Regions from separate parts of the Homo sapiens genome. Here region 1 is reported to be linked to region 2. Evidence: microRNA targets listed by miRTarBase, many of them from high-throughput screens and not tested one by one. Region 2 holds a microRNA gene; the other region holds the end of a gene's coding sequence.

Region 1 (3,072 bases), not on the chromosome of region 2:
CTGGAATGTGATTTGCTGCGACTGCAGACATCTCCATACGGCATAATGAACTCCCTTGAGTGGTCTCTTTTTAAACAATTTTGGGTGAGGGGCAGGTTTCTTGGTTTGTTTCAAAACTCATCTTGAAAATAATCTAGACGGAAAAATCCGAAGTGAAATTCTGGTGCAACAAATATTTTAAGATTGAAGTTTGGTTACTTCTCTTGTCCATCTTTTCGTGCCCACAAATGGAAACTACATTCCTGATTTAAGAGGATGCTTCTGTCTGTATCCTTTTTTGAACTGCATTGTTCTCACAAGGACCAGCAAACTTTTTCTGTAAATATTTTAGTAAATATTCTAGGCTTTACAGGCCACATATAGTGTCTGCTGCATATTCTTCAACGTTTTTTCTTAGGCAACTGTTTAAAAATGGCAAATCCACTACTACCTCTCAGCTGGAGCAATGAGGTTTTCTCAGCCCTTGTTTCAGGATCCTCAGGTATGTGACTAACTCTTCTATGCCCAGAGCTGGAAGGCGGGGTCCCCTAACTCCCTGGGTGCCCACCTGCCCACTTCAACCATTTGTGGCCCCTTCCTTTCCTTTCTTCCCTCTCTGCTGCTGACACCAGTGGCTCCATCGCCAGCTCCCTGCAGCCTCCACCAATAATCCATGGCTCCTCCAGGAAGTGTCGCAGGCAGGTGGCCAAGACCAACTTATTAGGTAGCCAGAAGCTCACCCCTTTCTTAACAACTTTGACCACGAAGCGCAAATACGATGCAGGTAAATCCAGAGGCAGAGCCTGGGTCCCCAGGCTGCTGGTAACACGCTTTGAAATCCAGGTGAGGGAGCCATGCCCCCACAGCTCTTGCCTCAAGGATCAGATGCATTTTACCTTCCAGAGACGCAGGTTAAGCTGCACCTGAGGCAGTTTGAGCCACAACTGGGACAGAATTCCCTTGGTCTTCTCTTCTGATCCCTCAGCAGAACTGCCCCTAATGCTCAGTTCATGGCAATACAGGCCTTTTCTCTCCTGTTTCTCCAAACTCTCCCAGCCTCTGCCCAGTACCTAGTTCCAAAGCCACTTTTATAATATCCTCAGTTATCTGTTATAGCAACAACCCCACTTCTGGGTACTAATCTGCTACCAACTACAGGAATTTAACTGTTCTGGAGTTAGGGAACAGCACACACAGACACTCGCACAAAACAAACTCCACCTAAAAAAACTGTACGAGAATTCCCCAAACTTCTCAACTAAATAAATAGGTGAAAAAACACCAATCTCACATATGCCAATCCAATTGTCCTTTTTAGATTTTGGCTTAAATTGTCGAATTTTTTCCTTCAAAATGTGAATTTATTTCCTGTATTGGATGCAGACTCTTCCCTTCTGGATTTACAGTGGTGCTGCCAGCAACAGCCTCAGTCAATGCGGTTAGGAAGAGGACTCGGCAGGCTGTGCATGGGGTCTCCCAGTACGATTAAAAGCTGAGATGACTTTTAATTAAGGGGGGTGGGGGAAACACCAATTGGAAGCTGGAAGAAACTGAGGCACGATTAAGCAGAAACACTGAGGAATACTGAGCAAGAAGTGGGCATGTGCTCTAGTTCCAATAAAACCGAAACTGGTGAAACTAGGAATTTCCAATTCTTTCAAAACCACAGTGTTCTAATGCCACTGAAATATGGAATAAGGAGCGTAATTACCTGCGGTCAGGAAAAGATAACAGTAACGAGGATTTTTCTAAATAAAATGTACCAGTAAATTCTGAAGTGTGTGTTTTTAAAGAACCAGCATTGCCTCCCCTCACGCTGGTTTCTTGGGATTTTTCACACACTCGCACAAAGCTGTAGTCGATAGTTCACTATCACTTTTATAAATGGTTATCTCCTGGTGCCCATGTTTCTCTGTTTTGGATATAAATGGTTTAAAAAATTTAAATTTGCAAAGAAAACATATACAGTAACAGACCTGAACAATAAATAAAAAAAAAAATCACCCTCTTCAGGTTAGAGCTTTCAAGATAGAGAAAAAAGAGGATTATCATTTCAGGCAGTAAGTTTTTTGGTTCTATGAAAGCATCACTATTCAGTCCCCTCTCCACTGACAGAATGCATCTTTCCACCTCCCTCCAGTATCAAAGTGCATGTGTTTAAATTTAACATTCCTTAGAGAAACCCCAGAAATCTCATTTATTTTTGGCAGATATCCTGTGCAGCAAAAATCAAGTGAATTTCCCTCTTCCCCACTCCTCAATTTAATGCTGTACTCAAAATGGCTAAACGCAATACTTCTAGACAGCAGGGCTTATAAACAATGCATTTTTTTTTTTTGAGACGGAGTCTCACTCTGTCGCCCAGGCTGGAGTGCAGTGGTGTGATCTCGGCTCACTGCAAGCTCTGCCTCCCAGGTTCATGCCATTCTCCTGCCTCAGCCTCCTGAGTAGCTGGGACTACGGGCGCCCGCCACCACACCCAGCTAATTTTTTGTATTTTTAGTAGAGACGGGGTTTCACCGTGTTAGCCAGGATGGTCTCGATCTCCTGACCTCATGATCCGCCCGCCTCGGCCTCCCAAAGTGCTGGGATTACAGGCGTGAGCCACCGCGCTCGGCCTGCATTTTGTTTTTGTTTGGAGGAACAAAAAAGGGAAAGAAAAAACAAAACCACAGGAAAATAAAGAGGAGAAACCCTGAGGCAAAAATGGCTTTTCCTTTTGAGTCTTCGTGGAGCTGTGAGCTGGATCACAAGGTCCCCGGGGCATTCTGGGCGGGAAGGCCCTCCTCCATCCAGAGGGCGGCGGCCGAGCTGCTCCGGGGAGTGCGCCTGTGGATGCGCCGCAGCCGCAGCAGGTACAGCAGGATGGCCAGCAGCACCACCAGGAAGCAGCCAGAGAACAGGTAGTGGTTGTAGACAAAGGAAACGCCCCGCCAGTGGGTGTGACTGGCTCGGAAGGCCTCCTGCTGGATGTCTCTGCCCATGTGAACACCAAACAACAAACAGGACAGTAAGCAAGGAAAGGGGTGGAAAGGGTGCACAGGGGGACGGCGGGACCCAGGCCCCAGAGCTGCACTTTAGGAACTGCAACCC
Region 2 (3,125 bases):
GCTATTTGGAACTACTGTCGAGTTTGTATTGGGGCCAAGCAGTGTTGCAGAAGAAAATAAGGCGTTTAGGTTTTAGGTCAGGTGTAAGTTGAAGAGGTTTTAAATTCTTGAGCACACAGGCTAAGGGAGAACAAGGAGGAATGGAGGGTGGAAGGTTGCCCATAGTGAAGGAAGCAAACCCAGAGAAAAGAGAGCGTAGAGACACAGAGGGAAGGGGTTTGGGGGTTCTTGCCCCCTAGAAAAGCGGGACTTGCCACTAAGGGTGAAGGAGAAGGGGTTGAGGGGTACTTGCCCCTGCCCCAGGAAAGCGGGACTTGCTGCTAAGGGTGAAGGAGAAGGGGTAGAGACAAGGAGAGAAGGGGTTGGGGTACTTGACCCTGCCCCAGGAAAGCAGAGAAGGGGTAGAGACAAGGAGAGAAGGGGTTGAGGTACTTGCCCCTGCCCCAGGAAAGCGGGACTTGCCGCTAAGGGTGAAGGACCAAGGCAGGCCTCCCTGCGTGGTCTGACACCCTTGAAACGTGGGTGTATAATCAGAGAGGCATCCCTGCAATGATTAAACACCAAGGGAAGGCTGCCTTCCCATTCCATCACCCACGCCAGAGTTTTGGGTCCACGGATAAAATGTGTCTCTTTTGTCTCTACCAAAAAATGAAAGGAATTGAAATTAAGAGAAGGGAGAGATTGAAGTGTAGCGCCAAGATTGAAAGGAGAAAGAGGTTGAGGGATAGTGAGGGAAGTTGGAGAAGAGAGTAAAAGGAGGCCGCTTACCAGATTTGAAATTGGTGAGATGTTTCTTGGGCTGGTCGGTCTGAGGACCTGAGGTCGTAGGTGGATCTTTCTCATGGAGCAAAGAGCAGGAGGACGGGGGATTGATCTCCCAAGGGAGGTCCCCGGATCCGAGTCACGGCACCAAATTTCATGCGTGTCCGTGTGAAGAGACCACCAAACAGGCTTTGTGTGAACAATAAAGCTGTTTATTTCACCTGGGTGCAGGTGGGCTGAGTCCGAAAAGAGAGTCAGCAAAGAGTGGTGGATTATTATTAGTTCTTATAGGTTTTGGGATGGATAGGCGATGAAGTTAAGAGCAATGTTTTGCGGGCAGGGGTGGATCTCACAAAGTACATTCTCAAGGGTGGGGAGAATTACAAAGAACCTTCTTAACGGTGGGGGAGATTACAAAGTACATTGATTAGTTAGAGTGGGGCAGGAACAAATCACAATGGTGGAATGTCATCAGTTAAGGCTATTTTTACTTCTTTTGTGGATCTTCAGTTACTTCAGGCCATCTGGATGTATATGTGCAAGTCACAGGGGATGCGATGGCTTGGCTTGGGCTCAGAGGCCTGACAATCAGTATTCCTGACATTTTGATACTGGCATCAATTTTCAAATTTCATGAGCTCTCTATCTATGAGACGTTCTGGTTATTGGAATTTCCCCCCAACCTGGCCCTTTAAAGAGATGATATCCCTTACGATAAGCTCCCTTTAACTGCCTTATCATTTCTGGTTCAAGTTGATGAATCAGAAGCATAAGAAAAAGACTTATATTTTTCTTTATTTACTCTATAAGTATTTATTGAGCACCCATGATCAGGACATTGTTTTAAGTTTTGGAGACATACGAATGACTAAACTCAGAACTATACTCTTAAGGATCTGATAGTTTATCAGGGATGACAGAGAAAAAAATGAATGATTTCCATTCAATGATATAGGTTCCTTCGTATAAATAATTATGGGGCACAGTAGATACTAAAGGAGAGAACAGGGAAAGGGCAACACAGAGGAAGTGACACTTATGCTGTAGCTTAAAGACTAAGTAGGAATCTTCCAGGCTGACAAAAAGAAAAAAATAGCACTCAGAATAGGCTACAGTATCTACTAAAACAGAGAGTAGTGTAAAAGCATGACTATGAAATCACAGCATTATTTTGGTTATATTCAGCTTGATTCTAGGAAAACTCACAATCGTTACATCTTTAGTAAATCTTTTTCAATTAATCTTTAAAAATGGAAACTGGTAGCATATTTATACATTTTTATACATGGGCCTTATACTTTAAGTGTGAAGTTCATCCTTAAATTCACAATGAACTTCAGTTTCAGCCAAATATTTTACCGTTTGTTTTCCTTTCACCCTGTTAAAACAAAGATAAACTGTAGTAAATAAAAATGAAAGTAATGCATCAATGAGAAGAGAAGTTTCTGTAGTTTTGCCTTTGTAATGACACCCACTTTGATCTGTCAAGAAAGAGACTGGGTGCAGTGGTTCACACCTGTAATCCCAGCACTTTGGGAGGTTGAGGTGGGAGGATTGCTTGTGTCCAGGAGTTTGAGACCAGCCTAGGCAACATAGCGAGACCTTGTCTCTACAAAAATAAAAATTTAGCAAGGCATAGTATGTGCCTGTAGTCCCAGCTATTCAGGAGGCTGAGGTGGGAGGATGGCTTGAGTCCAGAAGGTCAAGGCTGCAGTGAGCTGTGATGGCATCACTGTATTACAGCCTGGGTGACTGAGACTCTGTCTCCAAAAAAAAAAAAAGCGAGAGAGAAAAAAGAAAGGAGACCATTTCAGGGACCTGTATTCTAGTCTAAGCTAGTGTGGCTGTTCTCTTAGGTCATGGTTAAGTGGTGTAGGAGGAAGACATTTCTGCTCCGTCCTTCCCACTCACCTCCTAGCACTCAGCTAAGAAAGAGGAGCTGCCGCCCTGGTATATCTATCAGCCTCCAAGACACTGAGGCTTACTTTACTTCTTTCACCAGGCGTGGCATTGCTTTATGATAAAAATGCCATGTTAATCTTGAAATATTCTCGTCTTTCTTTTTTATATGTTTTGTGGCTGGATTCTAGAGAATTTACCAACAAACTCAGTCAACTTGCTGTCTCCTCCATTTTTTTTAACCTAATAGATCTATGTGATACTCAGATACTCCCAAGATATAGCTTTGAATGGGGCCTGGGGTGATACGGGTATTTTTAGCCAAAGCCACAAAGCCTGTGCCAGAAATATGCTTTTGTGGTCATTGGTCACTGACTCCACAGTTACTAAAGTGATGCTCTATTTTCCATTTTTTGCTATGTTTCCTTTTAGAGAGCTAATTTAGGAAATTTGTGGAAATTAGG

What was found. The annotated mature microRNA hsa-miR-4454 reads GGAUCCGAGUCACGGCACCA and lies in region 2 at 893-912, shown strand. An mRNA with a match to its seed (bases 2 to 7 or 8) in the 3' UTR can be bound and repressed. Matches are read on the target gene's strand: a 7mer-m8 pairs with bases 2 to 8, a 7mer-A1 pairs with bases 2 to 7 and ends in A, and an 8mer does both.
Region 1: miRTarBase lists ENTPD4 as a target of hsa-miR-4454. Seed matches in the 3' UTR shown: 7mer-A1 at 2,536-2,542.

Annotation. Positions count from the first base shown.
Region 1 is chr8:23,430,200-23,433,271 of GRCh38, forward strand. It overlaps ENTPD4 (ectonucleoside triphosphate diphosphohydrolase 4), which reads right to left. Exons shown (of 13, transcript NM_004901.5): 13 at 1-2,955. The coding sequence ends at 2,727. Among named protein-coding and RNA genes, the nearest start is that of ENTPD4, 26 kb to the right of the region's middle.
Region 2 is chr4:163,091,394-163,094,518 of GRCh38, reverse strand. It overlaps MIR4454 (microRNA 4454), which reads left to right and starts at 891; the gene lies at 891-945.